2 linked regions of the Homo sapiens genome follow. The protein of the gene in region 1 purifies or fractionates together with the protein of each later gene. This does not show direct contact. Each region holds a gene or a part of one and is shown on either strand. Other genes may lie near its edges.

What was found. The genes of interacting proteins can lie anywhere in the genome.
Region 2: the proteins of RASA2 (region 1) and KLHL7 purify together in Homo sapiens (affinity purification with western blotting; 2 studies listed by BioGRID and IntAct, with this or other methods). This does not show direct contact.

What each region holds. Positions count from the first base shown.
Region 1 is NC_000003.12:141,490,012-141,497,038, forward strand, and holds part of RASA2 (ras GTPase-activating protein 2), read left to right. Parts: intron 1-7,027. UniProt on the Homo sapiens protein: Inhibitory regulator of the Ras-cyclic AMP pathway. Binds inositol tetrakisphosphate (IP4).
Region 2 is NC_000007.14:23,122,758-23,129,784, forward strand, and holds part of KLHL7 (kelch-like protein 7), read left to right. Parts: intron 1-1,019; coding exon 1,020-1,122; intron 1,123-1,930; coding exon 1,931-2,024; intron 2,025-2,290; coding exon 2,291-2,415; intron 2,416-3,003; coding exon of another isoform or gene 3,004-3,062; exon of another isoform or gene 3,063-3,293; intron 3,294-7,027. UniProt on the Homo sapiens protein: Substrate-specific adapter of a BCR (BTB-CUL3-RBX1) E3 ubiquitin ligase complex. The BCR(KLHL7) complex acts by mediating ubiquitination and subsequent degradation of substrate proteins. Probably mediates 'Lys-48'-linked ubiquitination.

The DNA.
Region 1 (7,027 bases):
ACATGCAAATATGTTTCAGGTGTTTTATATGCGCTCAAACGAACCCAGGGAATTCGAGATCCATCTATAAGACAAAATATTGTCAGCAACCCTGGATTTGCTGCAGTTTGCGCTAGGAAACCATGACAGTTCTGAATTGTCTGCTTCCTTAAACTTTTTCAAGAGGTGAGTTTGGTTGTTTGATATCCTAAGGTTGTCATATGAACCCTTGATAAAGGAAATTAGGGGTGTACTCGACTCCATTCTTCGGTCTGCACTCCTGTGTAGCGAGTAGCAAGTATGCTAGAACACCTGAAACACATTTGCATGCTCCCTCCTCCCCTCAAAAAAAAAAAAAAAAAAAAAACCGTATTCAAACAGAAAAGAGGGATTGGGGCTTCCTCCTTTATGTATCTTCAGGCTTCATGCTGTTATTTGGTGACCTCCTTTTTGATTAGCACTTGTTAAGTTTCCTCTTATCCAATTACATTAGATTGTAAAAATGTTGCGGAGAGCACCCATGCCACCATATGTGTGGGCTTATCTACTCAAGGAATACCAGATCAATAAGAGAGCCAAATGGGAAAATTTTGTGTGAATTTTCAGATGTGTGGTACAGTGCGAGATCTGTGGGACTATGTGTTCCAAAACTCACTTAGTTTCTCTGGTGTCTTCAGACCAAGAATAGCCTAGGGTTATTTGACAGAGTAGGGAAGATCTATAGGGTATGGTTAAGTGCTTGAGCTTAGAGGCTGGGTGAAAAAGTTAGTTACCTGGGTTTGAATCTTCACCTAATTTCCAACTTTTGTTAATGTCTTTGGGCCTTCATATTCTCATATATAAAATGGGGATAGTAAAAATACCTATCTCACGGGTTGTTATGAGGTTTAAATAAGCCTCCCTCCCTACTCTGCCCCTCCTCATCTCTGCCTGCTCTTTCTCACTCCCCAGGATCTGGGTCATACACCGACCATCTCTTAGGAAGGAGTAAAGTAGGAGATAAAAACTAATCTTCATCTGATGTTCTTGTCCAATGTATACTGGAGTTTCCAGGTGTACAAAGCTGATTAAAATCTGAAGACCTATATTCTTCTTTAAACGTTGTTAATTAATCTTCATATGGCGTTAGCCAGCTCACTTATCTTGAAGCTTACCTTCCGCATCTTTTAAATGGGAATGATGCTTTTCCACTATCCATTGTATACAGGTTGTTCCCTCTGCTTGGGATTGTCTTTCTTCTTTACTCCACCCCATCTTTATGTCAGGAAGCTCCTACTCATCCCTCAAAAGCCTGCTCTATGTGATCTCCTTCCCAAAACCTTCTGAGACACTTCCAGTGCCATCTCTGGCCAGCATCTCTGCTGCTGGGGAACACAATTCCTTGCTCATTTCCTTATTATAGCACATTTCATAGAAATCATTTGTTCACTTCTCCTGTTAGATTGTGAGCTCTTTCAAGATAGAATTGATTCTTGTTCATTTTTAAAAAATCATCCCAGTGTCAGCACAATGCCTAGAACAGAATAGGCCTTTAGAATATGCCCTACCTCACAATGTTATCCTGTGGATAATTACTAGATATGAAAGTATTTTATAAATTATATACCTAAAAAAACTAGAAGGTGTTAGTATTAAGAGAAAACTGTATGAGTCTGCATCAGGAAGTTCATCCCTTTCAAAATCACAGTGCCCACTAAGCTTAGGTTTGAATTGATGCCAAAGTTGCCTTGTTAGGAAAAAGATTAAATTTTTCTTAATGCTCTGATTACTTATTATTAGGGCATTTGAATATTGTTACTAATTGGTCCTGGAGCTTGGAAAAGAAAATCTCATATTCATACTTTACACATTAAGTGTTTTAATTTGACATGACAGGTTTGAATAAAACCGTCTATTTAATTCTGTGAAGTATAAATCAAAACATTTTATTGACTATCCAGTAAAGTTGAGTGGAAGAGATTAAAAAGGGTGTATTCATGCTAAGAGTTCATTTTTATCAGATATTTGAAATGAGATGATGAGTTATTTAGGATGGAGGAAGAATCCATCTTTCAGATGGATAGAAACTGGGGAGAAAAGGGTTCTTTGTAAAAGTTCACAGAGCAGTCTGCTAATCATTTGCTCTGTGGAAGACGGGAGGTAAACCTCAGTGAGTTCATAGAGTTGTTTTTTTAAAACTTAGAACTCTTTGAATAGATCCTTAAGTGACTAATATAGCCAGAATAAAACCATCATTTTATCCTTTAATCATAGCTGCTAATCCTATTTCCTTGTTAATGTGCTTTATGAAATTATTTGACAATAATATCAGATTACATGTTTTTGCTACTAATAAAGTTCTATTCTCTTTTGAGAACTGCAAACAAAATGTTGTATAGTCATATATTCATGTAAGTTAAGCTTTTTATGTGTATTAAGACATTTTTATGGCATCTCTTTAGGTTTGTATGTAATTTTAGTTATCAAAAACCCCTATCTAAAGTGATAAACATTAAAAGTTTGTATCAGTACACATACAGAGAACCATAAATGACAAATTTGTTTTCCTGTCATTAATGACAATGACTTTGGGCAAATTCTTTAACCTTGCTGAGCCCGTATTTCCTTACTTGTAAAATTAGAGGTTTGGATATGGTCTTTAACATCCCTTCTACCATTTTGATTATTGCTTTTTAACTTGAACCATTTGCTTTAAGGCAGTACATCAGATGCTTTATTTTAGTGTTTAAATGTATTTAGTACACTTGTTTTGCATGATTCACTGTTTTAAAAATATTTAAGATTTATTAGATAAGAGCGTTTGAATTCTAAATTTTTTTTCTGTGACTGTTAATTAATTCAGCAGCACGTAATACATATCGAAGGGTCTGTTAAGAGACGCTAACCCACTGGACTGAAATGGGCCTAAGCTGTGAATCGGATGAAAGATCCTATTTTATCCTAAAGTCTATACTAAGCAATAGCTGTTTTTAGACATCTGTATTCTTAGACAATTATAGAAATTTAAAGCTGGAAGGTAGAGAACATGAAGGTAGAGAAAATAAAGGTTCTTACCCTTCATTTTACAAATGAAGAATCTAACAGAGACAGCAAGTGTCACACAGTTGATGGCCTGTTCGGCACTAGTCCACTATTATCAAAGTTCTTTCTAGAATGCTATATGAGATTAACTTATTACTATGAATGTTGCAAATGTACTACATTTAATACACAGAGATTATACTACTTATCTGTTTATATATTGAGAGGTGGTAAGATTTTCACTGTGCCGTCTACACACTCTTAACTGTTCCTTCTTAAGAACTTTGTGAAGTGGTTAGGATTAGTGATGAAACTATGGTTATGACCTAGGTGGAGATTGAACCTGGATGTTTAGTTACTTGTGCCATGGTCTACCTCAGCTATTTTCAGTTCTGACTGTCTGTCACCATCACCTGTGAACTAAAAAAATTATGATGCCCAGACTGTACCCCAGACCTACTAAGTCAGAATTTCTGGTTTCAAAAGTTCCATAGGGGGTGATGTTGGGCAGCTAGGATAGTGAATTTCTGCTTTTGTCACAAATAGATTAGCCACATACCCTACCTAAATGATGGCAACCTGCTGTGCTATCATTTAAAAGGTATCAGTAGAAAGGTTGGTATAGTTACAGTGAGATTTTAGTTTGTTTGCATATATATTTGATATATTAATTCTATTTGATTAGATAATATGAACACTTGGTACAAAATTCAAGAGGTACAAAACAGTATATACATTGAAAAGTATTCCTTCCTTTCATTATCTTCTAGCCATTCCCTCCCAAGAAGCAAGCATTACCAATTTGTTATATCCTTTTTGTTGTGTGTTCTTCCAGAAATTAAGCATTTACAAACATAAATTTATGTGCACTAATATATTCCTTCCACCAACATACAAATTATAGCAAAATATATACATTTTTCTGTATCTTGCTTTTTTACACTTAACAACATAGCTTGAAGATTTTTTCACATTCACATAAAGAGAGATCTGCCTTATTTTTTAAACAACTGCATAATATTTCATCATTTGGCTGTACCACAGTTTATTTAGCCAGTCCCCTATTAGTTGACACTTAGGTTGTAAACAGTCATTGCTATTACAGACATTACTACAATGAATAACCTTGTAAGCATGTCATTTTTAATATGAGTGTCTTTTTGTAGGATACATTTCTAGATAGATGTTAAATTGATGAATTGAAGGATATGTGCATTTTTATTTTGGAAAGACAATGCTAAACTATAGCAATTTAAGCTCTCACCAGCAATGTATGACTGCCTATTTCTTTATACCCACGTAGGGTGTATTTTAAAACTTCTTAATCTTTACTGGTCTATGAAATAAAAAGGAACATTTAATTTGTAGTTTTAATTTGCACTTTTAAATGAGAGTGAGGATTGCTCTGTCACCAGGGCACGATCTTGGCTCACTGCAACCTCCGCCTCCCGGGTTCAAGCGATTCTCCTGCCTCAGCCTCCCGAGTAGCTGGGATTACAGGCATGTGCCACCACGCCCAGCTAATTTTTGTATTTTTGGTAGAGACGGGGTTTCACCATGTTGGCCAGGATGGTCTCGATCTCCTGATCTCGTGATCTGCCTGCTTCAGCCTCCCAAAGTGCTGGGATTACAGCCGTGAACCACTGCGCCTGGCCCTAATTTTTAAATTTTAAATTTTTCTAAGGCTTGAAATTAAGTTATAGGATCTCTTCATATTTTTAAGAGCCTTTTTTTTTGATGTGCTATGTGAACTGGTCTATTTCTTTTGTCCTTTTTTTTCTGGTGAGTTACAGTCTTCTTGATTTGTGAGAAAATGCTTTATGCTGTAAGGAAGTTAGCTATTATTTTAAAACCTGTGCAAAGATTTAAAAAATCTGTATACTTTGGCTGATGCCTGAATTTATTCTTAAGTTGATTGTGAGATCCAGTGAGGGCAGTCAGTTGTAAGTTTCATCTACTTATATAACGTCTGATGGTTGAGAAATTGAGAAAGAACTGCTTGAGGAAAGGTAAGTGAAGACTTATAAACAAAAGTTAAAAGACAATAGATTGGGAGAAAATATTTGCAGTGTATCCTTCAGACAAAGGAAATGTGTATAACACTGAATTCTTTGCCAGGCACTGTTTTAAAGCACTTTATGCGTATTAACTAATTTAATCCTTACAGTAACTCTAAAAATACCATTATTATCCCCATTTTACACATTATGAGGAAACAGATACACAATAGCTAAGCTAAGTAAATTGACCAAGGTTAGATGGCTGGTGAATGGTGGAGCTATCAATCAGACTGGGCAGATTGGCTCTAGAGTCCATCCTGTTAACTCTTAACCTACTGTGCTATTATGCCTCTCTATTTATTATGTCCAGATTATATAAATAATTCATACAGACTTAAAAACAAGAGGCCATTAGAAAAATAAAGGATACGAATAGGCATCTCACAGGAAAGGAAATACAAATGTCCAGTAAACATGAAAATATTGGTAAAGTAAAAATTAATCAGGGAAATAAAATTTTAAAACATCAATTTACAAAAAAAGGAAAGTTTATCTCAGTCTTTGGTGAGGGTTTAGGGAAATAAGTATTTTCCTCATTGTTGTTGTGAGTTTAAATTGATAAAGCAATGTTGGAGAGCATTTTGGCTATATCTGTTAAGAATTTAAATGTCTATACACCATGCATTTTTACTTCTACCTATTTGCCCTGCATCAACAGTTGTACATTTAGAGAAGAGGCATATACAAAGATATTCAATGTTGCCTTGTTGGTAAAACAGAATAATTGGAGACGACTTAAATGTACATCGGTAGGAAAATGGATAATATGTTCATACACGTATTCTATAGCAACTAAAAAGAATGAGGTATATCTATGTTATGAAAGGAAAGAACTCCAGGATGTCTTGTTGGGTAAAAACAGCAAGTTGTAGAATAATATGTGTAGTATCCTGTGTATTGTTTTAAATCTCAAAACATTTTACTTTTCTGCATGTAGATGGATAAATACATAAAAAGAGGTCTGAACAGTTGTACAGATAACAGTGATTGCCTCAATGGTGGATAAAGGGAGTTAGCCGGTGCTGGGAAAACTGGCTAGGCATGTGTAGAAAGCTGAAACTGGAACCCTTCCTTACACCTTGTACAAAAATTAATTCAAGATGGATTAAAGACTTAAATGTTAGACCTAAAACCGTAAAAACCCTAGAAGAAAACCTAGGCAATACCATTCAGGACATAGGCATGGGCAAGGACTTCATGTCCAAAACACCAAAAGCAATGGCAACAAAAGCCAAAATTGACAAATGGGATCTCATTAAACTAAAGAGCTTCTGCACAGCAAAAAAAACTACCATCAGAGTGAACAGGCAACCTACAGAATGGGAGAAAAATTTTGCAATCTACTCATCTGACAAAGGGCTAATATCCAGAATCTACAAAGAACTCAAACAAATTTACAAGAAAAAAACAACCCCATGAAAAAGTGGGTGAAGGATATGAACAGACACTTCTCAAAAGAAGACATTTATGCAGCCAACAGACATATGAAATAATGCTTATCATCACTGGCCATCAGAGAAATGCAAATCAAAACCACAATGAGATACTATCTCACACCAGTTAGAATGGCGATCATTAAAAAGTCAGGAAACAACAGGTGCTGGAGAGGATGTGGAGAAATAGGAACACTTTTACACTGTTGGTGGGACTGTAAACTAGTTCAACTGTTGTGGAAGTCAGTGTGGCGATTCCTCAGGGATCTAGAACTAGAAATACCATTTGACCCAGCCATCCCATTACTGGGTGTATACCCAAAGGATTATAAATCATGCTGCTACAAAGACACATGCACACGTATGTTTATTGCGGCATTATTCACAATAGCAAAGACTTGGAACCAACCCACATGTCCATCAGTGATAGACTGGGTTAACAAAATGTGGCACATATACACCATGGAATACTATGCAGCCATAAAAATGGATGAATTCATGTCCTTTGTAGGGACATGGATGAAGCTGGAAACC
Region 2 (7,027 bases), on another chromosome or scaffold:
AAACTATATTAACAGTTTTAGTAAAATACTTAAAATTTGCAAAATGCAAATCCTCTGAGCCATGAAGCCAATCTTAGATTTGTAAGCGATATTTTTTTTACTCTGAATATATTATTTGCCTCATATTCCCAGTGCCTAGGACAGTCTTTAATACATTGTATACACCAAGTTTTCTGTAAGCCTAATCTCTATATTTTGTCTTTAACTTCGTTAAGAAATTAAGATTTTATTTGGCAAAAAGGACATTTATTTTTCTTGATATTCATTTATAAGTGTTCTAGTAAGCCTTAAATTTTTTCTTTATTATTCCGTTTTCCCCACATTTTAATTAAGTATTACTCAGAGCTGCCTTCTTTAAGCAGCTTATGGTGATACTATTTTGACGTTGGTCAGAAATCAGAATTTAAAACTGGCTGCTATCCAGCTTCTATCAGAAGTGCATTTGAGAGAAGTGTTATTTAATAAAAGATTGCTGAAAGGACATTTAGTTCATCTCCTCTCTGTATTCTGAGCTGTTTCTGTTTCAAGTTAGATCTGTGAATGCTACTTTCTTAGGAAATGCAGTGTATGTTCTCAATTTCATCAAGGATAAATAATGGAAAATAAATCATATAAAAACTAATTGCTGTGTTTGAAAAACTGTCAGGGTGTCAGGGGCACTGCCATGATGTCATTGAATTTCCCCCAGAAAAGCTTACCATGAGAAATGTCCTAGAATCTGTGTCAGAAAAAAAAAAAAAAAAAGACTTCTCTGAAGGGTTAGTAGACTTGTTTCTGATTATGAGGAACTTTTTCTTTCCTCTTGACTGTTGGAAAACTCAGTGCAAAATTTTTATACTACATGGCAGCGACTCTGTAAGTCCTTTCTAAATATGTCTTCAAAAGAAATTCTGCGCTGGAAAAAGATTGGCTTTAAATAGAAAATAGAGATAAAGCATTTGGCAAGCACCTTTTTAACATGTATTGCCAAGCTAGGCTAGTGAGCCTCTTTTTATTTTATGTATTTTTCCTTTGATTAGAAAACGTTGTGTGACGTGATCCTCATGGTCCAGGAAAGAAAGATACCTGCTCATCGTGTTGTTCTTGCTGCAGCCAGTCATTTTTTTAACTTAATGTTCACAAGTAAGTATCTTAAGGTAAAACATGCCATTATTTCTTCTATGAGAATGAAGTAAAATCTAAAAGAGAATATGTCATTTTTCTAATTTTTAAAGCAGTTAAGAACTTAAGGCCACAGAACAGTGAAGAGATTGAAAAAGTAGTCAGCTGATAACCAAAGGAAAAAATGTCCTTTCATTAGACCTAAAGGCCTGATGCCTTTATTGATGGAGGTACAGCTTCTACTTAAAAGCCCAGGGTTGAGGTGGAGGTTGCAGTGAGCCGAGATTGCACCACTGCACTCCATCCTGGGCGTCAGAGCGAGACTCTGTCTCAAAAAAAAAAAAAAAAAAAAAAAAAAAAAAAAGCCCAGGGTTTTCTTTTTAACCTTAGGTGGAAAGACAAAGAAGCAGATAAATTTCATAATATTTTAGCCGGCAAGTTAAACTTTAAAAAAAAAATAGCTGTAGCATATTGTGCCAGAAAGAACCCTGGATTTGGTGTTCAGAACTGGGTCCAAGTCCTACTTCCTCTACTTAGTACTATTTTATGAGCTTGGGAAAAAAACAAAATCTAGTTTTATGTTTCTGTTAATATGGTCTTAAAAAGAAGTACACTAATTCACTCTTTTCTTAGCTTAATTTAAGGCACATCTTGGGTGGAGAATTAATTTGCATTGACTATAGAAATGTTGGGCTTGCTGGGGCATTTTCTTCCAGAGAGAACTGTCCCGTTATTTTTCTGCATATTTAACATGGCCTGGAATGCCGTGGTTCCTCAGTCAAACTTGTGGTAGTACAGATGCCATTTATGTTTCTTCTCTTCATTGTAGCTAACATGCTTGAATCAAAGTCCTTTGAAGTAGAACTCAAAGATGCTGAACCTGATATTATTGAACAACTGGTGGAATTTGCTTATACTGCTAGGTGAGTTAAGTATTATTTTTATTTTAGAGAAGTAATGTTGGTATCTACCATGGCAAAGCATTGTCGTAACAAATAGTTGCACTACAAATTCTTCAAAATGAAAAACCGCAAGGATGGAAGAGTTTCAGTATCCTATGCCATACTAATTCAAGGACTGAAAGTTTAATTTTGTGTTTAATTTCAGGGGCTATTAGGATACATTCCACAGTAACATTTAAATAATAAAAAATCATGGGTAACTAATATTCCCTCTAACTTATTTGCAGAATTTCCGTGAATAGCAACAATGTTCAGTCTTTGCTGGATGCAGCAAACCAATATCAGATTGAACCTGTGAAGAAAATGTGTGTTGATTTTTTGAAAGAACAAGTTGATGCTTCAAATTGTCTTGGTAAGAAATATCAGATTCCTGTTGTGTGTTTATTTTGTTTTATCCTTTATTTCTAATTTAATTTTTTAAAAAGGCTGATTTTAAGTATCCGCATTTAACCTTAAAGACATTGTCCACTAGAACGTTTTCTAGTAATAAAATTTAAGAGGGGCTTAGAGAGATGCATATTAACCTGGGCAGCAGCAAGCTTATTAAATATTATATCAACATTTTCTAAAACACAAAATGGCATTTTTAATGGTTTTTCACGGATCTAGGACAATGAATAAGGATTGCATGTGGTGATAGTAACATGATTATGAATGTTTCCTTTTATTTAAGCACTTATGATATGCTAAGGTCTATCACAGATGAGGCAACTTATAGTTAGGTAACTTGCCAGAGGTCACATAGCTAGTGTATGAACGAGCTGGGATTGGAACTCAAGTAATCTAATTCTTAGCTACTACACCTTGCTGCCTCCCCACATTGTCAAAATGCTGTTTTATACTAGAAAACATAACCTTAGTCTATAAATTAAGATACTAACTGAGGGACTGCTATAGCCATTTTGAAGCTATTAATAAAGTATTTTCTATTTTGTGATAGGAGAAGCAGAAAAAGTTGATCAGAGCCTTCCAGAGTGTGGTATGCTTTTCACTGTGTGATGATCCTTAGTGGCACATGAATGAACGTCCAGATGTTTGTGCAGTAGCCCACCCTTATCTGCAGGATACGTTCCAAGACCCCCAGTGAATGCCTGAAACTGCAGATAGTACTGAATCCTATATATACTGTGTTTTTTATGATACATACATGCCTATGATGAAGTTTAATTTCTAAATTAGACAGTAAAAGATTAACAACAATAATAATAAAATAGAACAACTTTAACAATATGCTAGCATCACTACTCTTATATTTTGGGGCCATTATTAAGTAAAATAAGGGTTACTTGAACAGAGCACTGCAATACTAGGGTAGTCCACTTCATAACCAGGATGGTTTCTTAAGTGACAGGCAGGTAGGTTATACAGCATGGATATGCTGGTCAAAGGGATGATTTCTGTCCCAGGCAGGATGGAGCAGGATGACGTGAGATTTCATCACACAACTCAGAACAGCACACAATTTCAAACATATGAATTGTTTGTTTCTGGAATTTTCCATTTAATGTTTTTGAACCACAGAAAGCAAAACCATGGATAAGGGGGACTACTCTAATTCCATTTTCCTACGCTTGTTGTGATTCAGAGGCTTTAAAGAAAGGGAAGAGCGCTGGTATAGGAGTGCTAGGAAAGCAGGGAGGAAAGAAAAGTAGAATGAAGGAAAGTATAAAGAGGGGTCAAAGAATCCAGTCAGTGCTAAGATATTTGACCCAGGAGAAAAGAAGAGGGGTGCTAAATGACAAGAACGCAAAGACTGATGCAAAGGGCTCCTGAAGATGCTTCAGAATTTTGGCAAGTCTCCTCTGTCCCTACTTTTTGTAGGCTTTCCTCCTTCCGGACACTTTAGTACTCCTTCCTGCATACCCCCTCACTGTGAGCACAGAGAGAGAGATCTTGGAAGGCAGGTGGAAAGCAGCAGAATAAATTTCAGGAGGAAGTAAAAGTCAGGTGAAGGGAATAAAAATGAGACTTAGCCTAATATCCAGAAAAGGGATTGGACTAGATGGAGCAGGAAGAGAAATAGCTATGCAGGTGAATATACTGAAGGAATTTTTAAAAGGTAGCCATGGGTCTACATATTGAAAAGATCCCTATATTAGAAAATAAAAGGCCAATCTCTAATCCTACCTGTACAGCAGAGACACTCTGGCATGAGTCCTTCCATCTCTTTGGGCCGTAATTGGGGCTTCACTCATCAATAAGATTTATATTCCTAAGACTTAAGGTTACTTCCATTATATAAATAATTATCTTCAGACAATACTATAAACGGGGAATTACCTTAATTAAGTTTTTGGAAATGATGGCTTATGTATGTTTCTATAACTCCCTAGCACTCTAAATTTCCTCCTGGGGTGATTCAACTACAAAGAAGAATGGCTGAAATATAGGTAGGTAGTAGATGTGGTGGTGCAAAGCATAGTGTGGAACCTGGAGTGAGTCTGTGCTAAGCACATCTTAGGCTTTGGGCTTCTGAGGAGACCATTTAGTAGTTTTGCCTCTGGATACCTTCTATCCTTACTGTTCACAAAGCTGGGAGGAAGGACAGCCCCGCCACCTAGAAAGTAGCCTGATTCCTGGCTAAGCTTCTGGCAAAGACAGTGGCCCAGCCAGGTGAGCCAAGTGCCATAGCCCAATAACTAGGGAAACTGCTTCTGCTTGCTTTCTGTTTAGCCTTGAGCATGGCTCTCAATGTCAGCTGATTGGATAATTCCTAGCTTAGTTTTCACCACCTGTCAATTCTCTGCTGCCCAGAAAGAGTCCATCAATCGAGCTTCCACAAATGCTAAAGGAACCGGTGGCAGCTGATGGAATCGGGCAAAGATCATGTAAAAAATTAAACCCAGTACCAGCCTGGCCAACATGGTGAAACCCCTCTCTACCAAAAAAATACAAAAATTAGCCGAGTGCAGGCGTGGTGGCACACACCTGTAGTCCCAGCTACTCCGGAGGCCGAGGCGGGAAAATCGTTTGAACCGGGAGGCGGAGGTTGCAGTGAGCCGAGATCTTGCCACTGCACTCCAGCTGCATGAGACAGTGAGACCCTGTCTTGGAAAAAACAAAAAAAAACAGTAGTTTGAGGAACAGAAAACCAAGCTAAACAGCCAAAATGAATGGCTCCTGTAAGGCAAATTTAATGTGAGAAATAGAAGGGAACAAATTAACCGGGCATGGTTGTGCGCGCCTGCAGTCCAAGCTACTCCAGAGGCTGAAGCGGGAAAATCGCTTGAACCGGGAGGCGGAGGTTGCAGTGAGTGAGCCGAGATTGCGCCACTGCACTCTAGGCTGGACTACAGAGTGAGACTCTGTCTCAAGAAAAAAAAAAAAAGCAAACTTAAAAATACGATGTGTAAAAATATGGTTTTACAGTTTTTTGACATTCAATTGAATTGAAAAATAGAATCGATACTCTTAAAACTCAAACCGAAGAAGATCAAACAGGAAGTTGCCTCATGATACGAAACAAAAATGCAAAGGAAGCCACTAGTGAGAAGATAAAAGAAAGGGAAGGAAGATACAGGAACTGCAGTGTGAGGTAGGAGTTCCAGAAGGAACAGATGGAGAAAGCAATAATCAAATAAGACTACGACTTCTTTGGGTTTAAAAAAAAAAAAAAAAAAAAAAAAAAAAAGAACTTTAACTTTCGGACTAAGTTATACTGAGTATTAAACCTGATCAATGAACTAAGATATTCCTCCCTCAGATATATTCTAGTGATATTTTTCACCTTCAAAGATCAAAAGAGAGCTTACATTTGGGGTGATAAAAATATTCTGGAACTAGATAGTGGTGACTGTGGTACAACATTGCAAATGTAGTAAATGTCACGGTAAGTTTTATGTGTATTTTACCACATTAAAAAAAAAAGTGACCCTACAGCTAGCAGGTCCCAAAAGAAACTCCCACACCCACTAGCAGTCACTCCCCATTCTTCCTCTGGCAGGCCTGGCAACCATGAATCTGCTTTCTGCCCCTATAAATTTGCCTATTCTGAGTGTTTCATATAAATTGAATCATACCAAAGGTGGCCCTTTGTGTCTGGCCTCTTTGAGCACAGTGTTTTTAGGGTTCATCCATATTGTAGCATTTATCAGTACTTCATTTCTTCTTATGGCTGAATAATATTCCATTGCATGGATATACCAAAATGTGTTTATCCATTTACTGATGGGTGAATGTTTGAATTGTTTCCAAGCCAGCACATTTTATAGAGGAAAAGGAAAGCACTGGTTAACTTGAACAAAAAAAAATAAAAGTGCTTTCTACCATCTGGGACCTTGGCTGTGGATCAGGTGAGTGCACAGGTCAGACGAAAGCCCTACAGTTGGCACAGCCTGGGCCTCTGTCCATGGTTGCAGGGGCATCTCCGCAGCTACTGCATGCAGTGATCATGGGGGCCCCAGACCTGGGCTTAGGCAAGGGCACTGTGTTGTTGTACATCACCAAACACTTCAAGCTGAGGCACCTCTCCAGCAGGGACTGCTCCAGGACAACATGCTACAGGGCACATAAATTGGTATGTTAGCCAAGGCTTTTCTTGACCAAGGGAAACTCATCCCAAATGATGTTACGACTCGGCTGGCCCTTCATGAACTGAAAAATCTCACCTAATATAGCTGGTTTTCCAAGGACACTGCCATAGGCAGAAGCCCTAGATGAGCTTATCAGATAGACACAATGATTAACTTGTATGTGCCCTTGGAGGTCATTTAAACAACACTTCACTGCTTGCTGTTCATCTAGCTAGTGGCCGAGTCGACTACATTGAATTCAACCGTCCCCAAACTGTGGGTATTGCTGATCTGACTGGGAAGCCTCTCATTCGGCCTGAGAATAATAGACCAGAGACACAGTTATCAAGAGACTGAAGACTTATGGAGCCAGTCCCAGAACTTTACCAGAAAAAAACAGGGATGTTGGAAACACTCTCCAGAGCAGAAACCAACAAGATTTAACGTCATGTT